Homo sapiens: one gene and its partners. The protein of the gene in region 6 purifies or fractionates together with the protein of the main gene of each other region. This does not show direct contact. Each region holds a gene or a part of one and is shown on either strand. Other genes may lie near its edges. The genes, in order: NOTCH2, PASK, SORL1, SCARB2, BRAF, CCN6 and LRP6.

What was found.
Region 1: the proteins of CCN6 (region 6) and NOTCH2 purify together in Homo sapiens (affinity purification with mass spectrometry; one large-scale study listed by BioGRID and IntAct). This does not show direct contact.
Region 2: the proteins of CCN6 (region 6) and PASK purify together in Homo sapiens (affinity purification with mass spectrometry; one large-scale study listed by BioGRID and IntAct). This does not show direct contact.
Region 3: the proteins of CCN6 (region 6) and SORL1 purify together in Homo sapiens (affinity purification with mass spectrometry; 2 studies listed by BioGRID and IntAct, with this or other methods). This does not show direct contact.
Region 4: the proteins of CCN6 (region 6) and SCARB2 purify together in Homo sapiens (affinity purification with mass spectrometry, with the first as the bait; one large-scale study listed by BioGRID). This does not show direct contact.
Region 5: the proteins of CCN6 (region 6) and BRAF purify together in Homo sapiens (pull-down; one large-scale study listed by IntAct). This does not show direct contact.
Region 7: the proteins of CCN6 (region 6) and LRP6 purify together in Homo sapiens (affinity purification with mass spectrometry; one large-scale study listed by BioGRID and IntAct). This does not show direct contact.

The regions. Positions count from the first base shown.
Region 1 is NC_000001.11:120,059,663-120,063,162, forward strand, and holds part of NOTCH2 (neurogenic locus notch homolog protein 2 isoform 1 preproprotein), read right to left. Parts: intron 1-3,500. UniProt on the Homo sapiens protein: Functions as a receptor for membrane-bound ligands Jagged-1 (JAG1), Jagged-2 (JAG2) and Delta-1 (DLL1) to regulate cell-fate determination.
Region 2 is NC_000002.12:241,108,536-241,111,472, forward strand, and holds part of PASK (PAS domain-containing serine/threonine-protein kinase), read right to left. Parts: intron 364-2,937; coding exon of another isoform or gene 164-363; exon of another isoform or gene 1-163. UniProt on the Homo sapiens protein: Serine/threonine-protein kinase involved in energy homeostasis and protein translation. Phosphorylates EEF1A1, GYS1, PDX1 and RPS6.
Region 3 is NC_000011.10:121,556,814-121,560,313, reverse strand, and holds part of SORL1 (sortilin-related receptor preproprotein), read right to left. Parts: intron 3,001-3,500; coding exon 2,909-3,000; intron 1,724-2,908; coding exon 1,477-1,723; intron 796-1,476; coding exon 657-795; intron 1-656. UniProt on the Homo sapiens protein: Sorting receptor that directs several proteins to their correct location within the cell. Along with AP-1 complex, involved Golgi apparatus - endosome sorting.
Region 4 is NC_000004.12:76,168,825-76,172,324, reverse strand, and holds part of SCARB2 (lysosome membrane protein 2), read left to right. Parts: intron 1-2,339; coding exon 2,340-2,458; intron 2,459-3,500.
Region 5 is NC_000007.14:140,732,930-140,736,429, forward strand, and holds part of BRAF (serine/threonine-protein kinase B-raf), read right to left. Parts: intron 1,842-3,500; coding exon 1,668-1,841; 3' UTR 1-1,667. UniProt on the Homo sapiens protein: Protein kinase involved in the transduction of mitogenic signals from the cell membrane to the nucleus. Phosphorylates MAP2K1, and thereby activates the MAP kinase signal transduction pathway. Phosphorylates PFKFB2.
Region 6 is NC_000006.12:112,052,610-112,056,903, forward strand, and holds the start of CCN6 (cellular communication network factor 6 isoform 1 precursor), read left to right. Parts: upstream 1-1,494; 5' UTR 1,495-1,725; coding exon of another isoform or gene 1,726-1,748; coding exon 1,749-1,796; intron 1,797-4,294. UniProt on the Homo sapiens protein: Plays a role in mitochondrial electron transport and mitochondrial respiration. Through its regulation of the mitochondrial function may play a role in normal postnatal skeletal growth and cartilage homeostasis.
Region 7 is NC_000012.12:12,180,045-12,183,544, forward strand, and holds part of LRP6 (low-density lipoprotein receptor-related protein 6 isoform b precursor), read right to left. Parts: intron 1,396-3,500; coding exon 999-1,395; intron 1-998. UniProt on the Homo sapiens protein: Component of the Wnt-Fzd-LRP5-LRP6 complex that triggers beta-catenin signaling through inducing aggregation of receptor-ligand complexes into ribosome-sized signalosomes.

The DNA of each region.
Region 1 (3,500 bases), on a different chromosome or scaffold from region 6:
TCATCTTGTTCTCTGACCAAGCTAACTGGCTAGACCCACTGTACTGGCATTTATCCATTAGGTCAAAGTGTCAGAATTAGCAGTGCATGGTAGACATAGCATTAGTCCTGCCTTTCAGGGATGTTAAATGCTTCAAAAATCTTGGCTATCTAGAAAAGGAGGACAGTAGCCGATTACGTCACCCACCCAAAATCATGTATTTGACTCCAGAATACACTGCTTTTCTCCAACATATTTTTTTATTAAGTATTAAAGTAAATGTCAATTTCCTAGACATATACAGCTGAAAGCATGCTGATTTACGATACAGTCAGATAAGAACTTTCAAGTAGCTACAGAAAATAGCAGTTAACAAATGAATTAACCAATATCATTAGAAACCAAAGGATTAAAAAAATTAACCTATGAAATGAACAATTTTTATATCAACATTGGTAGCAATTTGATGTTATGTTATATACTGCTAATTATTTCCATACATATTGTGACATATTTAAGACAAAAGACTAACACCCTTAATATTTAAAGAGCTTTTTCAAACCAGTAAGAAAATAATTAAATGAGTAAAAGACACAATTTACCAAAAGAAGTAGAAAAAAAGGCAATACAAACGCCACTGATGATATGAAAAAACATTCAATATCACTGTAATGAGAGAGGCATATTAAGATTAAGTAATATTTACCACTTATCAAATGGTAAAGATTTTTAAAAATAAAACCTAGTGTTGACAATAGTATATTATGTGTGTGTGCATATATATATATGTAGATCTGTTCATAAACTAAATATATATATATATATATATAAAAATAAATCAACAGCTTTTCTAAATCTAAGGGTAAAAAAACCAAAGACGTATACCAAAAAATTAATGGCAGCATGATTGTGGACATTTTATTTATGCTTTTCTAGATTCTTCAAACATCCTTAACTACTTTTTCAAACATAATTACTTTTTATTTTACAAAAATAAAAAAATCTTGTAAAGGTGCCAGAGAAAATCAGCAAAGTATAAATACGAGTTAATTATCTGTAAACATAACGAATAATTCTGTTGCTACGTAAACCTACCTTAAACTGTTTCAATGTTTGTTTTTAGTTACAACTATTTTCCTTAACTCTCTTAGAAAGAATATGTCAGAGAAGCCACTACATATTACTTACTTTAAATAGTAACATAATGCCAAAGACTTGCATGAATCTCAGGATACGGTCTTTTACCTAAAATTCCTCATGAAGATTAGAATGCACTTTAAATGTTGTAATAAAGTAAATGCCCTTAATGTTTCTAACTAAAGAAGATCTAGCAAATAAATAAACCCATATTCACAGCAAATAAAAATATAATAAAATAATCGAAATACACATGTCCTCAAACTTCAATGTGTCTTGACAGCGTCTGAACCAAAGCATGTGTAAGGAGAGAATTAAACAAAAATGTCTTTGCTACTTACCACATTTACCATTTAGAGAAGTTGATATATCAGCACTATCTAGTTTTGTGATTATTCATACTTAGAAACTCAACAGAACAGATTAGTGAGTAAACAGTATTCAATTATTCTTATTTGAATGTTGGTTAGGTATACCAATAGAACAACCTCTCCCTGCTAGGTACCCGTTAAAATAGATTATTGAAAATATTTGAAGCTTAAAAACTTACAGAATCTTCTCACAAAAAAAAAGATGAAAATAAAAAGAGATGAAAAAGAAGCAAACAACAATTTTAAAACGTGCCTGCCTCAGAACAAGGCAGTTTATTTTAGAATGTAACCACAGCTTCTTGTACAACACCTTATTCATCAAGCACAACTGTATTTTAAAGGAATGCTATTTGTTAAAAAGACAACATATTTAGGATAAGGTATCTAACTCCAACCACAATATTATCATCATGTTTTCCTTACTTCACAAAATACACACATACATTCATCATATGAATAAACATATATAATAAGGGTGAGAGAGCTACTCTTAACCCAGAAACAGGTTCTGCAACACCCATAGATCCAACCTGTCTTTATGCAACAATGAGTCCATCTTGGCAAGATGTTTGGCTGATGTATTCAAATAACCCAGAGTTCTGCCAGCTGCCAGTATCCTGCAGAAGGAACTGACTCGGAGACCAGAAACTGCCCTAGGCAAGCCTCCAGGGAAAGGTGCTTCAGTCCAATGGGAAGAAAAACCCAGCCCCTCACTGCCTGGCCAGAGGACCCGGGGTACCATGGCTGGAGCGACGTAGCTGGCTGGAAATGCGAGAGGGGCAAGGGACACTAAGGTGAACCCCCAAGAGCTTGTTCAATCATACCTAGTAAAGGCCAAACTATTGGGGAGCTAGTAGAACAGGGTTTTGCCAAGACAAGTACAAAAGGGTGAGGGAGATATTAGTATGATTAATCAATGCCACCTGAGGCAGCAACTCTGGGTGTGTCCACACCACACTTCAGTCACTGCCTGGCTGTGACGAGAAGTTCCTTCAGCCACTGCCACTGAGAACTGCATCTTCCAAGGAAGATATCTCCACCATAACTTGTCCTAGTTCAGGCTTGGCATTCGGGACTAAGAACACAGCACTCTCTCTTGCCGCAAACCCACTAACAGACATAATAGACACCACAACATGTGCCAAATTTATATTTACACCCTCACCAGACAAAGGGGTTTTTGTCTTTTCCCCAAGCCAAGTTCTAATACTTCTAAATTACAACACAGAAAGAGGAAAATGGCAGACAGCTCACGACAGCAGACAAGCCCAGCAAGGGTGAGCTGGAGGTCGCCTTTCCCTGGTGGTATTAAGACCTGAAGTTTACTCCCAAGACCCTATAGCTCCGAGTCACCCTGACTGCAGGAAACTGCTTTCAGAGAGCATAGATAAATGATAAAATAACTGTATTTCATATTCCTAATTGTGTGCTTATCTGTCTTGTCTCCATGATGATGTCAGCTCCTTGGGAGCAGGACCATATTTTCTACTTGGTCAATGATTCCCACACATCTAGAAGAGGAGAATACCCTGTACTTGCTACCACATGATGCCAAGGGAAGCACACAAATTAAGTGTGACAACACACCACAATGCTCCCCCAATACACCACTAAGACAGCAGAGCTACAAAGATAGCAAATGTTAGTGCCAAGGGCTAGTGATCCTACCAGTGAATTACATGGAAACCTATGTATTTACATACACAAGTTAATACAATAATTCCTTTGCTTTTCTTATTCCAAGCTATGGCTTTATCATCCCCCTTTCTTGGCTTTACTCTCCTTTTTAAGACCACAACGTATGTTCTGCCATACAGATAATATTCTCCTCAAAAAAGAGAGACAGGAGAAAAAACAGATCTACGGCAAACCTCCTACCACTACCAGTGATGCAGTTTGTCCCGTCTCAAGCCTATGAGCATATCCTTTCAGATCTGAAGCCACTTCCTTCTTCCTATCAAGGACAGTATTATCAAGTGTCTTTGTGAGAGGAGCAATCCTGTGCCCCTTCTT
Region 2 (2,937 bases), on a different chromosome or scaffold from region 6:
TCAGGAACTTCCTTGTGGACACCAACCACAAGACGTGTCTACCAGAGGGGGGAGCGGGGGGAGGGCTTCCTGGAGGAAGCAGAGTACACGTCCATTGGCTTTGCTGAGGGCCACGGGAGCTGCAGGCCACTTCAGAACAGGGTCACGTGCCCTTCAGACGTGATCAGGCATGTTCACGATCTTGGTGTGAACGGGCTTGGTGTGACCATGGACACACATGCCCTTTAGGAAGATGGCTGTGGCGACGATGTGAAGGGTGCTGCAGGACGAGACTGAACAGGGAAAAACACCGAAGGATGAAAGCAAACAAGAAGGACGTGGTGAAGGTGGGTGTTCACACAGTGGGCCAAATGGAGGAGCAAGCTTCAGGGAGAAGACACCCAAAGGACTATTGTTACTTCCTGTCGCCGTAAACATCCTCATCCACGCTACCATTTATTTCCTGTCACCGTAAACATCCTCATCCACGCTACCATTTATTTCCTGTCACCGTAAACATCCTCATCCACGCTACCATTTATTTCCTGTCGCCGTAAACATCCTCATCCACGCTACCATTTATTTCCTGTCACCGTAAACATCCTCATCCATGCTACCATTTATTTCCTGTCACCGTAAACATCCTCATCCATGCTACCATCTATTGGGTACCTAGAGATGCCAATGCTGTACCAGCATTTTACATGGCTTAACCCAAATCCTCACAACAACCTAGCAAGATAAATATGACTTTCATTTTGCACAGAAGAGCAAGGCTTGGTGAGGTGAAGTTGCTGCCAAGCACGCACCAGAGCCAGGTCACCAGCACCCACAGCCCTGCCCCTGCACTGGCCAAGGCCATGCGTCTCCAGGTCCGCAGCTGGGGGTCTGTCCCCAGAAGAGGTCTGGGAAGCAGCAGCCTGTTCTCAGAACCAGAATTAGACAAGGGAGCCAAGAGAAACCACAGCAGTGAGAAGAGTGGCACGGACAGAGCCCCGGGCTGGACTCGGAGAAGAGGGGCTGGGAGGGAGGGGAGGGGAGGGGAGGGGAGGGCTCAAGAGGGCAGATCACAGAGGCCAGAGCAGCAGCGTGGGTGAAAGTCGGGCCCCCAGGCTGAGTCAGCAGGGTGGTGGGGTGGCTAGCACAGACCGCAGGGAAGCTGAGCGGACGGATGAGAGCTGTAGGGGCTAGAGCAAGAAAATCAGTTTCAGCAGTTTTTGTTTTTGTGTTGTTTCTGTTTTTTAGAGAGATTTCAAGATGTTTAGAAGCTGAAGAGAAATATCCAATAGAACAGAACAGAGGTTGGCAAACTTTTCCTGTGAAGGGTCAAATAGTAAATATTTCAGGTTTTGGGCCACATGGTCCCCACTGCAACTCAACTCTGTCATGTAGGACAAAGGCAGCTACAGACGACACATAAGCAAATGAGCACAGCTCCATTCCAATAAAACTTTATTTATAGAAACAAGAGGCAGGGGATGTTTGCACACACGTTTGTAGCAGCATCACGAACAACATAAAGATGGAAGCAAAAGGTAGAAGCAACACAAATGTCCACTGACAGATGAATAAGTACAGCATATCCAGAAAACGCAATCAAATTCAGCCTTGAAAAGGAAGATGCTGGCACAGGCCACAACATGGATGGACCTTGAGGACTTTATGCAAAGTGAAATAAGCCAGTCACCAAAAGGCAAATGCTGTACGATTCCACGTATAGGAGGTCCCTAGAGTAGTCAGATTCATAGAGAAAATAGCAGAATGGCAGCTGCCAGGGCCTGAGGAAGGGGAAGAGGGACCTAAGGCCACAGTCTGCCGACCCTGGAGTAGACGGAGATGAAGATGACAAGACAGAAGCCAGGGCCCTGAGGATGGGATTGAGAATAAGAACTCAGAAACCCTTTCATCCAGGGAGATGGGGAGAGGACGCAGGAGGGAGGAAGGAGCTCCTGAGAGGAGGCCTGCAGCCCCGCAGGCCCAGGAGCAGTACACCGCTCACAGCCAGAAAGGAGAGGCCAGGAGGCAGGGCAGAGCCCTGGCAGGGCAGGCGCTCAGGGAGAGGGTGGGAGCCACAGCTCTGGGAGGCAGGGCCAAGGTGGCCAAGCAGCACTGAGCTCTCGCCCAGGTTGGATCCCCCCTGCACCCTCCCCAAGCTTCACGGCCTGGGTACAGGAAGGGGTGACAAGCCATGCAGCAGGCATCATGGGTCAGTGGACAGGGGACAGGCAGTTCCCTCCAGCACGGAGGGCACGACAACCACTGCAGGGCAGGCAGAGCCCACCAGCGCCCACCAGGCTCTAGGGCAACCAAACTAGATCTGAAGGGAAACTCCACGGCCCTTCTTAGACCAACCCCCTTCGATATTTCACGCTGTTTGGTGGCTCTGAAGATGCATGGAGGTTCTAGCGGGGAAGAGCCCATTTTCACTTCCTCCATACTCTGCACACAGGGCATCCAGGCCCAGAAGAGCTCAACGCTGCCTGGCATGGAGAGGTTGGCGCAGGCTGAGGCTGCTGGGCTCTGAGGACTCAGGGTGTGCAGCCTGGAACCTGCACCTCCTAATGAAATATGGCCTAAGCAGACACCAGGATCCAGAGCCCAGCCACTCCTCTCCCCAATGCTGAGGCCCTCCCGAGAGCCCAAGGCACGGCATGGAGCTCGTGCGTGACTGCGAGCAAATGCCCTGGCCTCAGGCCACCAGGTCAGGTGCAGCAGGTCTGTGAGGGACCCCGTGTGCCTCTCCTGTGGGGGCAGCATCAGCTTCCCTCCTAGAGAACCACATGGAGCAGATATGGGCGGTGCAGCAGAGCACTGCAGCAGAGGGCCAGGAGGGTCCAAGCAGTGCTGTGATCATCCGACTCTCTAACCATGAACTCACCTAGAGATGCATTCCAACCACACCTCTCTAAAATACATGTAGGTGTTAGTGGAAAACACCTGCTATCTATTTCTGACTTA
Region 3 (3,500 bases), on a different chromosome or scaffold from region 6:
ACAGCTACTGTCTGCACCCACTGCAATTCTTCCCCTCCCTTTTCATCCCTTATTCTTTCAACAAATATGAATTGAGCACCTACAAAGTGCTAGACACTGGTAAAACTATCGGGGAATAAAAAAGACCATCTCTTTCTTCATGGGGTTTAGGGTTTCATGGTGGGAAAAGTTAATTAAAACAACACCTAACTACACAGTGCCATTCCAGCAGAGGTAGGTACGGTCAATGAGCAATAGGTCATCTGGGCAACCAGAGAACAAGCAAGAGGCCCTGTCAGGAAGCAACAACTATCTGAGCACCCAGCACAGAGTCTCTTCCTGCAAGCATGCCAAACAGGGATTAAGCACATGTTAGGACTCTCCCAGCTGCAACAGAAGCCGCGCCACCAATCAGTCAGGGGCCAAGGGCAGGAGGAGGGTGTAATTACCCACCAAGCACCAACACTCTAGGCAGGCAAAAGCATGCTGTCTTCCAGCTGTTTGTGTATCATTAGAAAAGAAATTAAGATGTCATTAGGAAGAAATTAAATAATGTGCATGTTGTCGTGACAACAAAGATGCAGGCTGCCAGCTCCTACTCTGAGCAGAGATTGGCCACACGCAGCCCCTTTCTTGAGATCAACTCTACAGAGACAAAAGAAGAGACTCTGGCTTACCAGTGTTCTTCCCCTTGTAGAAAATCTTCATGTCCATGAGCCCCGTGAGCTGGTTTGCCAGAATCTCCATCTGGGACCCACTGTATTTGGAAGCTCGGAATATGCTGAGCTGTGACCAGTCATCCCAGTAGATTTCATTCTAAAAAGAAAACCTTTGCCCATTAGTCCAGCTCTTTCGTTCTTTATTCTGGTTCTCTCTAAGGGTAAGAGTTCCCCCAGGCAGGAGACAACTAACATTTATTGGCTGAATGACTAGCCTGATCAAGATTCTACTTAAATGCAAAGGACAGCAATTTTATCCAAACCTCACCATATAACCCCACAGAAGAAACTGCCCAAAAGAAACTATCTGATAAGCATTCAAGTTTATGACACAAACCCAACCCCCTCAGTTTGAAATCTGTTTCCCAGAGTTGGGAAGAGCCATGTTGCTCTCCAGAGTCGAAAAAGAACTGCAAGGCACTATAGGTGGTGCAGAGCTCACCGGAAGTCATCAGAGAATAAAGTGAGCAAAGCGCACAAAAAATGAAGACACCACCCTGAAATGAGGCTACTGACACTGAGGGGCAAACTGGGAATGTTCATGGGAAGAGCCTTCACTTTTAACCTTTTGAAATGTGAACAGCAGGGGAGCCTGGACCCTTGGCGCCTCTGCCTGGCATCCCTCCATAGGCTGAAAATAAGTTATCTCAAATTTGGAAAAAAGGCAACCTTTAAGAAGTTAAACAGCTTCTCTGCAAAGCCCAGGGATGCAGGCTCCTGATCTCATATGCTCCTCACCCGCTCTAGCAGACTGTCCGGCAGCAACAAATGGACTCACCTTAAAGACAGCAATGGCATAGGGGTGCGGGAGGTTGTCCAGAATGACAGAGCGCTGCTGGCCACTGAACGTGATCCGCTCTATGCACTCCAGGTAGGCATCCGTCCAGTAAATCCACTGGTCGTCCACAGAGATGCCATTGGGCCACTTCACATCCTCAGACACCAGGTGATAGGCAGCAGAACCATCCATATTGCTCCGATAAATCCCAGGCTTCAGGTCTCCCCAGTCTGTCCAGAACATCACCCTAGCGAAAATGGGGACAGAACACATACCTCATCAATACTAGAGAAATGGGAGCTCAAATACTACTCCAGAAAAGGTCAGAAACTCCTTTCGAATGATCCGGCTGGTTATTTCAGCATTATTATAACAATATGTAATGACAACACCTGAAACTACTTAAATTCCTTCACCTGGAAATTCCTTTACTAGAATTTATCTATAGATAAAATCAAATTATGCAAAGATAATATACAAAGAAATGTATATGTATGTATATTAAACTAAATGTTAATCAGCAGAGGAAGTGACACATTATGGTACATATAATAGAATACTGTGAAACCTAAAAATCTATATATGCTCACACAGAACTATTTTCAATACATATTAAGTTTGTTTAAAAAGGTACAGAATAGTAACTACACTACAATCCTATTTGGCGTGCATGTGTGTGTATATGTGTGTGTTTTAAAGATAATACTTGTACATAAGTAAAAGCAATCATGAAAGATACACAAGACATTATTAACAATGATTACCACTAGGAAGTGTGAGGGTAAAGGGTTAAGAATGAAAAGGAAGAATGCAAATTTTTTTCATAAAGTGCTGTTCTCTCTAAATATTGTCAACCAAGTACATACATTACTCTTAGAATTTTCCTTGAAAAAAATTGTGCCAATTCTCTATCATAAATGCTACGAGAGAGGAAAAGCCAGAATGTCAAATCCAGAATTTCCCTCTTAATTATGTTTCCTTCAGTTAATGAGTTAATAAAAAGCACCTTTGCCTTCCCCAAGTGCACACTGATTGTACGTAAGAAAACCTACACATGCTGGGAAGGCAGGGGAAAGATGGAATGAATTAAATGTTTGTACCATGCATGAAACTCAAGAGAAAGTTCTCACAATATCCAAGCAGGCCTGTCTATGTCTACAGAAGCTCTCTTTTAACATCAACTTTTCTAGAGAAACAACCCACAGATGCAAGACATCTGGATGCCTAAAGAGACTCTGACACTGGCTAACAAAAAGCGAACGGAGTTACCTGACCACGATGACTAAGCTGTGGTCTCAAACTTCTCAGTTAATAGACCATTTCAACCACCATCATGAGAAACAGAGTTTTTGTCCCGCAGTCTGTGTTTCCATGAGAATCTATTAGTGTAGCATTGGACGCAAGACTGATTTCCTTTTGGGGCAACACTTACCCCTCTTGGGGCACGAGGACCAGAGCCCTGGGACGATCAAGCACAGAGGAATTGACGATTGTGAGTCGGAAGTCGCCATCTGGATTAGCTACCTGACAAAAACAGGGGGAAAAGAGGCTGAGATGGATCGGAGCTCCTTAAAGACCCCCATTGCCAAAGATGGCTACTCAGCTTCTGCTACAGACATGCCCCCTCCATGCCTGCCTATTTCCCTGACCTGACCCATCTGCGAAACCTGCCCCAACTTCTAGTCACAATGCGCTGTTCCTTCCTCTGACTCATGGGACAATTTTCAAGTGGTCTGAAAGAGGAGCTAGAACCATGTAAGCCCCAGTTTCCAGGGCATGATGATCTGGACAAAGCAGTATCAATAAGTAAATTACTCAAATAAGTAAATAAGCAAATGAGCATTTACTTATTTCACCATCCCGTGTCACTCCACGTTCCAAGGCAATCGATGACTCCACACTCCCATAAAACAAATTCTCAATGTCACAGCCTTGCAATGAAGAGTCCACAGGTGGGACTCATATTCTTGCTCCTTCCCGTCAGCCAGGCTGGTCATCTCTTGCTTCTCCAAGCCTGATGCGGA
Region 4 (3,500 bases), on a different chromosome or scaffold from region 6:
ACTGCACTCCAGCCTGGGCAACAGAGTGAGACCTGGTCTCAAAAAACAAAAAAATTATATATATATAAAAAATTGTTTATATATACGTATATCATATATATGTGTATATATACATATATATATACAACTGACAAAAGTATTTTTCATCTTGAAGACTAGTTTTAACAGCCACATGTATATATTTATGTATGTATATGTTAATATATTTGTTAATATATGAGTATATTAACAAATTTTATAGTTATATATAAATATGCATATATTTGCATATACTTATATTTGCTATATTTTAATATATATGTATATAGTATATATATATAGGTATACACACACACGTGCGCAAGTGTGCACACACACTCATGGTGCACACACATGCATGTATGTCCCAGGGTCCCATGTTGGATATACCAGGGCCCCAGAATCTACACTTTTAACAAGTACTCCAGCTGATTTCCATAAAGATGGCGTCTAGGTATTTGGGGACCATTGTGCAAGGGAACATGGTACCCTTTACCTGGAGATAAAGACCAAGGGTGAATGGGAACAAGTTCCTGGTTGTGATCTCCCCCATTGCCTTACTGGTAATAGTCCTGAAACAGTGTCCCTGCCCCCTCATCTGGTGTGCATCTGGCTCAAAGCAAAAATGTAGATATATTTTCTCTTGCTGTTTTTATTAAATTCTGTTTCCTTAAGAAGCTGATGCCAGAATCAACAGAAGTATTCTACTTTACACATTTAAACTTCTTGCTACAATCCTTTTCCTCTTCCCTCTTAACGTATTCCCGAATTTGGACTGAAGTGAAACTCCCCAGGATTATCCTCCAGTGTTTTGAATTCTCCAGGGAAACATTTTGGATAGCAGGATGAGTGTTCTGGAGTCAGGCAGATTGGGTTTGAGTCCTATTCTATTTGTTGGTAAATTGGCCAAAGTTTATTAAGGAGGGTTCCAGACATCAGTTTTCTCATTAATAAAATGGAGGTGGTTATAGCTTCTTGAGGTTGTGTGAGAGTTAGAAATAATATATATAAAACACTCAGGACAGTAGCCCCTATTAAGCCCTCAACAGATTTAAAAAATACATTTTCAAGGTCATTATAGGTCACAAAGAAGGAAGTCATGCCTTTGTGGAACTATTCAGCAGTAAACAGCAAAATGCATGTGCATGTGAGAGATGAGGGATGAGTTCCTTAAGCCATGGGCTGGTGAATATGTAAGCAAATTTAAATAACTTGCCGACAAGCTCCTTTCTCCAAAAATGTATTTCCCTGGCAGCAATTGTTGGGTCCCTCTCTTCTTTTCAATAGCCAGATCTAGAATAGGTTTCCTTTAGTAACTTGTTTCCCTATTTGGTTATATATATATATATATATATATATATTTAAATTTACATAAGCACTTATTTGGTTCTTAAAATGAATAGGAAAGGAAAAACCCCAGAATCTTTGTGATCTGGTTAGAGGCTGGGTGTATAGCACAACCAGGCTAACTCTTAAAAAATTATGTAGGCCAGGTGTGGTGGCTCAAGCCTGTAATCTCAGCACTTTGGGAGGCTGAGGCGGGCAGATCACTTGAGGTAAGGAGTTCAAGACCAGCCTTGCCAACATGGTGAAACGCTGTCTCTACTAAAAATACAAAAAAATTATCCGGGTGTGGTGGTGCATGCCTGTAGTCCCAGCTACTTGGGAGGCTGAGGCAGGAGAATTGCTTGAACCTGGGAGGCGGAGGCTGCAGTGAGCTGAGATTATGCCTGTCTTTGGTAAAAACAAAACAAAACAAAACAAAAAACCACCAAAAATTTTTTTTTAATTTTAAAAAGGACAAGAAATAAAAAGTCAGTCCACTTACTGATAGAGAATTGTAGTTGAAACTAGTGCTTTGAGGTACAACACCCTTCATTCACTTAGTATTCTGCCTTCATAGCCTGATGGCTAGCTGTCCCTGGGTAAATTTTGTAACTTCTATGAACCTCACTTTCTTCAAATGCAAAGTGAGGCTAATAGTTCTGACTTTACTGGGCTGTTGGGAGCATTAAATAAAATAATGTGTATGAAGCACTTATACTTTAACTTCAGTAAATATTTGTTGAAGAATAAATAATTTAGCCTGAACTTCAATATATAATGTGGAATAAAAAATTGGGGGTAAATGAGATGTCAGAAAATGAAGTATAAATCCTGAACTAGGAGGTAAAGGATGGTGTTTTAGCCTACCCAAGTTAATTTATATGTAGCTTTTTTGTTTTTCTTTAGGAACCAGGCTGTGGCCAGGAACTTTTATATTCAGCTCAGCTTAGATTTTAAAAACAGCATCATTCATTTCTGTTTTCCTTCAAATGCAGGTGCACCCATCATTATGTCTTTCCCACACTTTTACCAAGCAGATGAGAGGTTTGTTTCTGCCATAGAAGGCATGCACCCAAATCAGGAAGACCATGAGACATTTGTGGACATTAATCCTGTGAGTACATACTTCCTCCTGGTAAAAGAGCATATGTTTTATTCTGTCTATACATTGTTCACCAGTTTAGTCCTGAGCCTTCTTTAAAAATATCCTTACTTTCATATACATATTCAAGTGGGAGAAATTCAGCTCAGTGCTGATGGAGGCATTGTCTCATAGCCCTGTAATTAGAAGGCTGAATTTTGTGGATTGAATAGCAGAAATACGAGCAAACCTGCCTTTAACAAAAAGCAACAGTGAAAACTCAGTTATTGGAAACTACTGATGTACCCATATAACCTGGTCAATCTTCTGATGCTAGCCTTGGACCTCAACATATATTTATTTCTCCCCTTGGGACACAGATCGATAAGGTTAAAGATGTCCCTTTGCTTCCTCACTGCCAGGAATATTTTGGTTGAAATATGAATATGTATATTAACCTCAGTCACTTTTGGCAAACTTCTTTCTACAGGTTATTTGAGAGTTTATTATATTATTAATTGTAAAGGTATCAGATATACATAGAGGAGACATACACACGTGTGTGTGTGTGTGTGTGTGTGTATAATACACATTTACTCCTGTATTCATAGACGAGAAAAACAAAAACCATGCTAACCATGTCTTCATTTTTGGAATTTGAACATTATGGACCAATAAAAAAAAAAAACAAGAACATTCTTTTAGCACAGTATTTTATGGGTACTTCACACTCTTAGCTGCATACATTGCATTTGTATCTGAGAAACCAGTGATCTTATGCTCTGGTGAATAAAATCGTGTGTGGTTTTCTCCCTTTTCTCTTAGCCATCAGCTGATCAGTTCCCTTGGATCAGCCAAACTGTTAGCAGTGCTTGTCACCAAGGGACGAACACAGTCTTATAACCTTAGTGCAAAGATGGAGCTGCCCTAAGGATGACAAGTGCTGCAGCTGTGCCCCATGGCTACGCTAGGCGGGCCCTATACTAGGATGCCACTCTCTGGCAGTGACCACCACCCTCTTCTTAGCTCTCTGGACAACTGCCTGGAAATCCAGACCTGACAGGCTATCTTTTAG
Region 5 (3,500 bases), on a different chromosome or scaffold from region 6:
ATTACTAATAATCATATATTTAATGCCACTGGAGGATTTAAAAATCATATACTTAGATATTTTCCAATAGTTGTACTTCTTTATTCCTTAGTATCATTTTTAAAAATACGTGAAATGTTCCTTTTCATTTTCTTAACTAAAGTCATGAATCAATTCTGATTCATAATGGCATTACTTATCTTAAGCTACCCAAATGAGGGGTTAAAGATTTGCCGTAATTATTATTGAGTGATTTTCCTGGATGACATCTAAGTATTCAAATAAAGAAAATGTTTCAAAAATTTATTTGTGGGTACTTAAAAACTAAATTATCATTAATTTAAAGTCTTCTCAATTTCCTTCTTTATTGACTTCAAGGAGGCATTTATGCAGATATGTGTTTACTGGAAGAACCTTGATCTATTGGCTACATTTAAAAATCATGACAAAACCAAATTGAGTAAGTGAAGATATAGTTAAGAGGCTGACAGTGAAGCAGAGATGGCCAAATCTTTGATAGGACCACGTGCTGTTGCTTTCTACTTTTGATTCCCTCTGAATCACAGTAAGAATACACTGACCACCACATTACAGTCATTTTCTACACAACAAAGTGTAAGTACTAAAGAACCCTAACAAATACTTCATACCATTGAATGAAAAAAGGAGAAGAGCATTCATTCATCATAAGTAGAATCTTGCTGGGCAAAGAATATAAGGAGGACAGAACATGAGACACAATGATAAGGTGATTGCTAAAATATGCATCATGAGAGGTAAGAATAATCTAATAACAACTTTAAAAAATCTATTACCTGGTGTTTGGCAACCAGAGGTATCTCAAAGAAAAACACACCTAAAAGTTCTCACAGAATTCTGTGAAGATTTTTTGCAGGGGAGAGATTGGGTGTGAAGGGAGCAATGCGTTTGCAACAAAATTTGACTTCTACATGAGCGAGACATCCTTAATGTATTTTAAAAAAAGCTATTTAAAAGAAACTCCAATTTATAACATTTTCCCGCTAAAAATCCGAAGTTAAGACATTTTACTCATGTCAAACGTGCCACTCCTCAGCAATATTTTTGGTCACCTGCACTCAAAATTTATAAAAAGAAACTTAGTTTATTGCTTCAAGGAAATAAAAGACATCCACATTTTCCAAATTGTTATAAAAAGAAATAGTTATAGAAAAATTATTAAGAATAATAATAGAATTATTAAATTCTACTGACTTCCTAAATTAGATCTGTTCAGTTTGCCTTATCTAACCCAGGCTAACCGACTGCCAACTTCTCACCTGCAAACACAGGCATAGGTAGGGTCTTCTTCTGGAGTCCCTAGTGGACATGTGATAGCTGGCAACAAAAGTTGCATGAGAAACTGAAGTTTACTACTTAAAATAACCAAGTGAATGATACAAACCCGGAACAGAAAGTAAAGCCTCTAGAAGAGGCTCTGCCAATTTTTAGCAATGTCTATGTATTTTAACCCTTGGATGTTAAAAATCCAATGTTAAGTATAAATTTTAGTTTGGGGAAAAATTATATCTAGTCTTTAACCACACAAGTGTTCTTTGGTTCACCTTAAAAAAAAAGAGAGTATTTTATTCAATTTAACATATAAGCAAACATATGTTCATTTATTTTCCTTTTGTTGCTACTCTCCTGAACTCTCTCACTCATTTGTTTCAGTGGACAGGAAACGCACCATATCCCCCTGCCTGGATGGGTGTTTTTGGAGAAGCACAAGCATATAGACTAAAATCCTCTGTTTGGAAACCAGCCCGATTCAAGGAGGGTTCTGATGCACTGCGGTGAATTTTTGGCAATGAGCGGGCCAGCAGCTCAATAGAGGCGAGAATCTACAAAAAAAAAAAGAAAAAAAAAAGAAAAAAAAAGAAAAAAGAAAAAAAAAGAAAGAAAGAAAAAGAAAAAACAGAAAGAAGAATGAAAATCTGGGTGGTATAAATCTTTAAGAGTCCCATCACACTTTACAAGAAAGCACCTGAAATCTTACATTGTTTTCAGCATTGTCATAAATGCTTGGGAAAATATTTGTAAATAATTGGTATTTTTTCTTAAGAAGAAACTCTCTCTGTAAATTAAATGGGGAGAGTAATTCTTAGTCAGCTTTTATTTATATTTTAGATCATTTGTTAGTCTTGAAACAGTAAATAATAGAAATTTAAAACCAATTTTATACCTTTTTGTTATAGACCACAAGTCTCTTTTGGGAAGAAGATGGAGTATAAATAAGTAAAGCACTTTATGACTATCTCTAAACAGAATTATCACAGCTACTTGCCCTTTAAAGAAACCTAGCCATGGGAAATGTTTTACATACACCTAATTGAAAGCAGAACCTCACAGACCCAGAGTGCTAGTAGCACATGAGAAGTGACAGGGGACAACCCAAGAGCAAAGATAGGAGAACTCGACAAATAGACCCCAATATATAAAATGCAGAAATTCACAATTTTAAGGCACAAAGAAACAGGTTATAATCCTTGAAGGCATACAGCATGATAATGCATGTTCATAATCATGAAACATGTTTAAAGGGCTTGGCATAATGCCTGGCCTATAATAAGCACTCAATAAAACCTTAGCAGCTATTATTATTACTTTTGTTATTGTCCTGAGATACCAATTTTTTTTTTTTTTTGAAACGGAGTCTCGCTGTTGTCAACCAGGCTGGAGTGCAGTGGCACAATCTCAGCTCACTGCAACCTCCCCCTCCTGGGTTCAAGCGATTCTCCTGCCTCAGCCTCCTGAGTAGCTGGGATTACAGGAGCGCACCACCATGCCCAGCTAAATTTTTGTATTTTTAGCAGAGACAGGGTTTCACCACGTTGGCCAGGCTGGTCTCAAACTCCTGACCTCAGGTGATCTGCCTGCCTCGGCCTCCCAAAGGGCTGGGATTACAGACATGAGCCACCATGCCTGGCTGAAAATTGTTTTTAAAAGTTAAATTTTTTTTAAAAAGTAATCTTTATGATGATTAGTATAAGACAAAGAAGTAAGCAGTTGCAAAAAATTGTAAATTCCAAGTATAACATGCAAATAAAAATTAAAATACTATAGAAATGTATAAAGAGTATAAGGCTCTCAAATCCTGCTCTCCAGGGATAACCACTGTTAGAGTCTATACTTTCTTCTGTACCTTTTTTTTTTTTTTTTGAGATGGAGTCTCACTCTATTGTCCAGGCTGGAGTGCAGTGGCGCGATCTCAGCTCACTGCAACCTCCGCCTCCCAGGTTCAAGCGATTCTCCTGCCTCAGCCTCCCGAGTAGCTGGGATCACAGGCGTGTGCCACCACGCCCGGATAATTTTGTATTTTTAGTAGAGACGGGTATCACCATTTTGCCCAGGCTGGTCTCGAACTCCTAACCTCAACTGATCCACCCACCTTGGCCTCCCAAAGTGCTGGGATTACAGGTGTGAGTCACTGCGCCTGGCCTCTTCAGTACCTTTTTTTATGTATAAAAATACATACATGAAAACAAGGCCCACCTGAACAC
Region 6 (4,294 bases):
CTGCACATTGTGCACATGTACCCTAGAACTTGAAGTATAATAATAAAAAAAAAAAAAGAAAAGAAAAAGATCAGATTGGACCAAAACAGACACATTTTCTTCACTACTCCATTATCTGGTTTTGTCCTATTTCTTAGGGAGGCAAGATAAGGCGTTGGCATCCTAACTGCAGTGGGTATTCCTTGTTGTTTGATGTGCATATACTTACAGTTTAATGACTCCTTAGTAAGCTCTGTGTGATCTGCAGGTTTTAGGGTGTCCATGGTTCTCCAAGGACACCAGATTCTCTGTGGTGGAGGACAGCCTCGTTTTTCCCAGGCCCTCAGCTCAGGCCTAAGCGAGGCTTGATGTTGTCTTTATACAGTAGTGACTGCCTTGAACAGTAACAAAGGTGAGCAATCGGTATAGGATAGGTAAGGCAGCAGGAAAAGGAGGGATAGGTAACTGATCAAAGGAAATAGAAATAGGCCTTGGGATGGGGGCAGGCAGGTGGGACGCCTCAGGGACCTGAGAGGGACAAAGCACCACGGCAGCTGCAAATGAAGATGGGAACACAGACCCAGGCTGAGAACATGGAGAAGCGAAGGTCCCACATGATGACACAGGAGGAGATGCGCTGGTGGTCACACCTTTCAGGGAGGTGAGTATGAAGAAGAGGAGTACAAACCTGTCAAAATTTTATTTTTAATCTTTTTTTTTTTTTTGAGAATAATTCTCACTCTTGTCCCCCAGGCTGGAGTGCAATGGTGCGATCTCGGCTCACTGCAACCTCCGCCTCCCAGGTTCAAGCGATTCTCCTGCCTCAGCCTCCCAAGCAGCTGGGATTACAGGCGCCTGCCACCACACCTGGCTAATTTTTGTGTCTTTTTTTTTTTTTAGCAGAGACGGGATTTCATCATATTGGCCAGGCTTATTTTTAATCTTAATTCATTAAATGAATGATTGCTACCAGTGTAATTGTTTTATTTTAGGCCCGGAAAAATGGAGGTTAACTTCATTGTCATCTGTCATGGAACTGTGGCCACAAAAAGAGGCGTCTCTCAGGCCAGGTACTGTAGGAGTCCGCCCCCTGCTCCATCTGTATTTTTTCCACTCACAGTCCACCTGGCATGAGAAAGGTGTTGGGATAAAGGTGAGCCCAGGGCACTGTGGGTGCCTCCGAGAGAATCTGAGCTGGGGGAGTCAGGGTCCTTCGAGAGCCTGCCATTAATATGGAGGGGGAAAGCCAGGGCTAGGCTGCGATGGGTGCTGTTGGTGGGGGGGCCAGGCCTGCACTCTGTACGTGAGGGTGAAGCTGGAGAAGGAAGCAGCCTAGAGAGGACCCGGAGCAGGGCAAACACAGATGGAGAAGCTGAGGGCAAGGAAGGGAATGACGTGGGACCCCACCCGTTGTCGGGGGCAGGCTCTGCTCTCCAGGAACAGGTAACACAGTCACTTAGAGAACAGTCACTACTTGCCCTGCCCTCCTGAGTCCCGGGAGGAAAGTGCTCGCCCATTCCTGACCTGTGACACGCTCACTGCGAAGGCAGGTTATTAGAAGAGTCCCATGAAAGTAAACAGGGTATTAAAACGGATCCTTAAAAATGAAAGTGCAGGCTGAAAGTTGGTAGTGTGGGAGGTAGAGGGTGTGTGTTCTTGTGCAGAGGAGCGTGGGGTTTGCAGAGGAGACAGGGGAGCTTTGTGTACCCGGAGCAATGAACAAGCGGCGACTTCTCTACCCCTCAGGGTGGCTCCACGGTCCCAGCGACATGCAGGGGCTCCTCTTCTCCACTCTTCTGCTTGCTGGCCTGGCACAGGTAAGTCCTCTCCCCCGACTCTTTCCCTTCCGGAGGCTATGGCCATCCTTAGTTCTTCAGGCCCAAAACTAAACAAAACGAAGATGGAGGAAGAGGGAGGATCAATGGCTTGTGGAACTACTTCATGAGAAATAGGAAGCCATTTTTCTTTCCAAATAAAGTTCTGTGTTCGTTCATGAGCTTCATGAAAGAAATGTAAAACATTTCTCCCTTTCAGGTAATGGCACCGAAGCCTCCTTTCGCTATGTTTGAACAGCGCCACGCTTTCCTATATATTTTTATAGCAGAGCCTAAGGCACAGCCTGGCACAGTGCGGGAAACAGTGTCTCTCCATGCCAGCTCCAGGCGGAGGCTCAACTTTCCATTGCTGTTTGCAAAATGTGCAAAGAGCCCCTGGAAAAACGAATTTTGACAGCGACTTTTTCCAGTTAAGTCTGTCCTTCTTTGAAAGGGGCACTTTGGAATAAACATTTACATTTTTAAAACATTCTCTTACTTTGTCTTTTCTCAGTCCATGTGTTTCTCACTTCCTGAAAGGGAAGCAGTCCATGGAGGCTTGGAAATATTTCAAGCAACAGACCAAAGGGAAGTTTAACTTACTATGAGCAATTCATTGCCTTAGTCTTTTTAAATAAGAAGATGAAAACAAGGTGACTTAATTGTTGATTTATTTACACGGTAGACAGGAGACAGAGCTTTTGAAATCTGGTGATTTAGGAAACATGGGTGTGTCTGTGAGTTAGTAGTTGATTGGGGCCATAAGTAGTAGATACATCTTAGAAAACAAGGAATTGCAAATTGTTATACCATATAGAGAGAGATTTACGATTTCAAAAGAATCATGACAAGAATGTCAGTGGTCCAGGTCATTGCTGCTGTTCTGTGGAGGGGCTCACTCCCCTGTCTGTGTGCCTCCTATTCCACTGTTCTTGAGAAAAAGCCTGTCATTGTGGATTGAGAGCAGCTAGATGTTCTTAGACAGCAGGTATTCCAACACAGAGAGATGTGTACAAAATAAACAACAACAAACACAGAAAGGTGTTACACAAAGAGCGGTAAAAATGGATTATTTTGTGCTTAACTTTGCTTTTATGAATTCATAAATTCATGAAATAGCTGATAATACCTAGCATTTACTGAATAGCTGCTATATGCCAAATACTGTGCTGGGTGCTTTATTTATTTATTTATTTATTTATTTAGAGACAGAGCCTTGCTCTGTCGTTCCAGGCTGGAGTGCAGTGGTGCAGTCTTGGGTCACTGCAACCTCCACCTCCTGGGTTCAAGCGATTGTTGTGCCTCAGCCTCCCAAGTAGCTGAGATTACAGGCCTACACCACCATGCCTTGCCAATTTTTGTATTTTAGTAGAGATAGGGTTTTGCCCTGTTGGCCAAGCTGGTCTTGAACTCCTGACCTCAAGTGATCCGCCCACCTCGGCCTCCCAAAGTGTTGGGATTACAGGTGTGAGCCACCACCTCCGGCCCAAGGGTGCTTTAGTTATTATCTTAATTATCAAAACAACTTTACAAGGTGGTCATTATTAATCCCATATTACAGAGGAGATCAAATGATGGGAAGTTCTGTAAGATCACAGAGCTGTTGCAAAGCTCGGATCTGTTGTCAAAATGCTTATTCTTTCTATTGCACCATTCTAGTGATGCTTATTGTCCTGAAATTTTGCTGTTGAAAACAATCAAAATATGCCTGAGGAAAAGTGAAAAATATAAGATTCTTTATATTTACCCACATATTGACTATGTCCAGGCCTCTTCATTTCTTCCTGTATTTCTAAGTTACTATCATAACAGAAGATCTTCAGACCGAAGATCCTCCTTTAGTATTTCTTGTGAGGCAGATCAGCTAGCAACAATTTCTCTTAGGTTTTGTTTACCCAGAAACGGTTTTTATTTCACCATCATGTTTGAAAGACAGTTTCACTGGCTATATAATTCTGGATTGACAGGATTTTTTTTTTTCTCCGTTTAACATTGTCTCTGGGCATCTTGTTCTTCTCCATCTCTCCCTCCTCCTCCTTCTTTTGATGAGAAGTCAGATCTCAGTTTTATTGTACTTCTGTATGTAATGCTTCCCCCTTTTCTCAGTCTACTGTTATGATTTTCTTTATTTTGAGATGGAATCACCCTCTGTTGCCTAGGCTGGAGTGCAGTGGCGTGTCTTGGCTCACTGCAACCTCTGCCTTCTGGGTTCAAGCGATTCTCCTGTCTCAGCCTCCTGAGTAGCTGGGACTACAGGTGCACGCCACCACACCTGGCTAAGTTTTTGTATTTTTAGTAGAGATGGGGTTTTGCCATGTTGGCCAGGCTAGTCTTGAACTCCCCGCCTCAAGTGATCCACCTGCCTCGGCATCCCAAAGTGCTGGGATTACAGGCTATTTCAGCTTCATTTTTGAAAGATGGTTTCACTGGCCATATAATTCTGGGTTGACAGGTTGTTTTTTTTTCCTTTCAACATTGTCTTTGCACATCTTCTTCTCAAT
Region 7 (3,500 bases), on a different chromosome or scaffold from region 6:
AAGGTGAGATCCATCCCTCCTATTACACTGGTATCATCAGTTAATGCCAAGGAAGGGGAAAAAAAAAAAAACATATGAAGAGGTGTTTAAGACATTTATCCCAGCAATATATAAGATTGTGGGAAATTTTCAGATCAGTGTGTTCTAGAGCCAATCCTGAAAATGCCTCCCAATAATGAGATTACAGTTTTACTTCTTTTTTTTTTTTTTTTTTTTAAATATTTTGTGTGCCCTTTTCCATGAACTTTCTCTCTCTTTTCCTTGATGGCTTGTCATCTCTCTGACACAAAAGGCTTATCCCAGCAGTATTAGTCAGATGGCAAACTGAATTCTCAAAATAACTATTTCTTCCTGCAGTGCTAAGTGATTCTTACGGCTCCTGGATGTTTAGATGGCTCTAAGGCATTGGTATATACTGAGGTGTAATTTGTCACTATGCTTGTCCTCAGAATAAATCTCAAAGTAACAAAATTGTTGAGTATGTAAAAAGTTGTACTTCCCTGGACTATGATCAGGGTGGCATGGCAAAACAAAACAAACAACAACAACAAACTAGAAGTAAAGCTGCATGGGCTGGCAAAGTTTTGGAAATCAAGTCATTCATGTATTTAGGGAAAAAAAAGTAAGCTATATTCTTACTATAAAGTACTGAAAATGGAATTAAAGCTTCTAGGGGAAGGGAAAGAGTTCTGAAAACAATTTCTTCCCACATTTTTCATGGTAATGATGCAATCCGAGCAAAATCTGCAGACAACACCCAAAGTCAGCAAACATGGACTTAATTTAGAAAGAAAAAATATCTAAGACATCCAAGGCAAAAAACTAGCAATTTTTAAACTTGAGATTGTATTCTAATCACCATATCCTAAAATAGACAGCCATTAAAGAGCTGTTTACTGGAAACCAATATATATGTCATGTTATCTTAGTCAATGTTTTCAGGAACCTGTGAAAAACAGAAACACCACACAGAATTTACTATCAGTAGAGCTTCTTACCCAACCATGGGATCTAACACAATAGCCCGGGGTTCCTCTAAGTCCTCTGAAATCAAGATCTTCCTCATGGTCCCATTGAGCCTTGTCACTTCTATTCGATCAGTGCCAGTGTCTGTCCAATAAAGATTTCGTGCAACCCAGTCCACAGCAATACCATCAGGATGGGCAATTTGAGCAGTGACCACAAACTGACTGCCAGATCCATCTATAAATGAACGGCGTATGGCCCTCACTTCATCATCAGTCCAGTAGATGTAGCCTTCCACAGGATCGTAATCTATGGCAATGGCATGACGGATGTCTTCTAACTGCAGAACAATGTCTGTAAAATCTGGTGTATCCAAAGAAATGCGTCTCAAGTCTGTCCTTCGAGCTAAAAGCAATAATTCTGTGGCACCTAGAACAACAAAGTGAAATGAAGAATACTTTGAAACCCAGAGGTAAAATTTACCTGCTCTAGATAAAGAATCAAGAACTGAAAAATAAATATAAAATATACATAAATTAACACAAAAGGATGTGCACTCTCTTTAGAGTGGAAATGGAAAGTAATACAGTGAAATAGAAGAGTCTACTCTGAGGTCAAGCTGTTTAATGGCTAACTCTCCAAATTAAGTTGTGATACATTCTATGGTTTCATTGGAATTAATCCAGCTATTTAAAAGTACAATGAATAATGACTATGTAATGACTAAGAAGCTAAGTAGCTCAGTATTAAAGGAGAAGGAAATGTAGGATATAGATCCTTTGTTCAAGAAGCATTTTTTAAAAAAAGATAAAGAAATTTAGGACAAGAATCTTTGTGCTTGATAGGAATGTTCTAAAATTGGATTGTGGTGATAACTGCGTAACTCTGTAAATTTACTAAAAAGTCACCGAATTGTACAATTTAAAAAATGGATGGATTTTATATGCTATGTAAGTTACATCTCAGTAAAACTGTCTTAACAAAGAGAAATACAGGGCAATACCTCACAGAATTGAGGACAAAGCAAGCTATGGAGAAACAAACAGCTGCAATGGAGGGAAGGAACCAGATAAACATAACACAGTGGTTAAGAGTTGTGGATCCAATATAATTTGATTCAAGAAGCTACACAAACTTTGGGAAAATATCTAATCTCGCTAAGCCTAGTTTCCCCATCTATACCTTGTAAGGTTGTTGTAAGGATTAAAGGAGATAAATCTAAAACTCAGGAAAGTACTGAACATTTAAGTACTCAAGAAATATTAACTAATACTTAACAACAGTATTAAAAAATAAAGATTTTCAGATTTTTATTTCACTGAATTTTAAATTAGGTTTATTTATGAACTGTTTAAAGCCCAAGCCCCAAATACTTAACCACATAACCAAGAATGAAGATACTGAGCTCAATCTTTTTTTCATTTTAAATTGTTCAAGTAAACCACCAGCAAAAAATCGTCTAACTATAGGAAGCTAATAAAAGACAGTAAGCAAATTGACAACTGAAAGAATAAGAAAAGATTCCCAGCTAAATAAATGAGTCCAAAACAAAATACTGGCATATAAACTTCAAGAATCAATCTGCAATTACAAGTCAAAAAACTGAGAAGAGGAGTGAAGCCTCTCAATATCAGCCCTTTCACTCTAGAGCTAATTATAAATGAATTCCAACTTGAAGAAAATACAGCCCAAATGCCACTGCAGGAACCAAGTAGGAATAACTTTGTACAATTCACTGCCCCGGCTAACAACCAAAAGGAGCCAGCCTAGAACTTCACAAAGAAGTCATAGAGCTGTTAATTTGAGCAAGGTGATCAAAACAGAACAGTTAACTTAAGGCTACTACATGCCAAATGCACACATGAAATTCAAAACTGGTTAAATATGTACACTTGCACTGCTGTGAGGGAGCAGATAGACCATTATTGCTAAAATAAATCCTCTGTTTTAAAGTCAGGCTACATTTTTAAAGAAAAAAGCAACATTACAAAAACCTTTTGTTTTAAATTGAAACCAAATTGCTGTCTGCCATGGAAACCATTTGACCAAGAGTCAGCCAGCTTCACCTTTTACTATGAGGATAATTTATCAATGCCAAGTCATAACAAACATCCTGTACACAGACTCAATTCCATCTCTCTGACTCCCTGGCCCCCTTGCCAGGGACTCTAACACACTCCAAAACACAGGCTTCTGCTTTTCAGAGTTAGATAAAGAAGCCACAGCTAAATACAACAATTTTCTTACCAGGTCTTGCTGGTTGCTAGAGAACCAGATGGTGATCCATAGGGGTGAGAATGAAGAATAACATTCTCATTAAGAAGAAAAACAGAAGAACTGGTGTTCTTCCAAACTGGAAGTCCCTTAAAATGTCCTAAATCAGTATACTTTCTCCAACGTGCCCTCTCTCTATAGGGAATTAAGAGTAAGGAGAACAGGCAAAGTGTGTTTCTTAAGTATAAAAAGAAGTTGTTTTAAATATGGATTTTTTTTCCCAGCTCTGAAAGCATCTCTCTGTTGTTAAAAAGCAATTT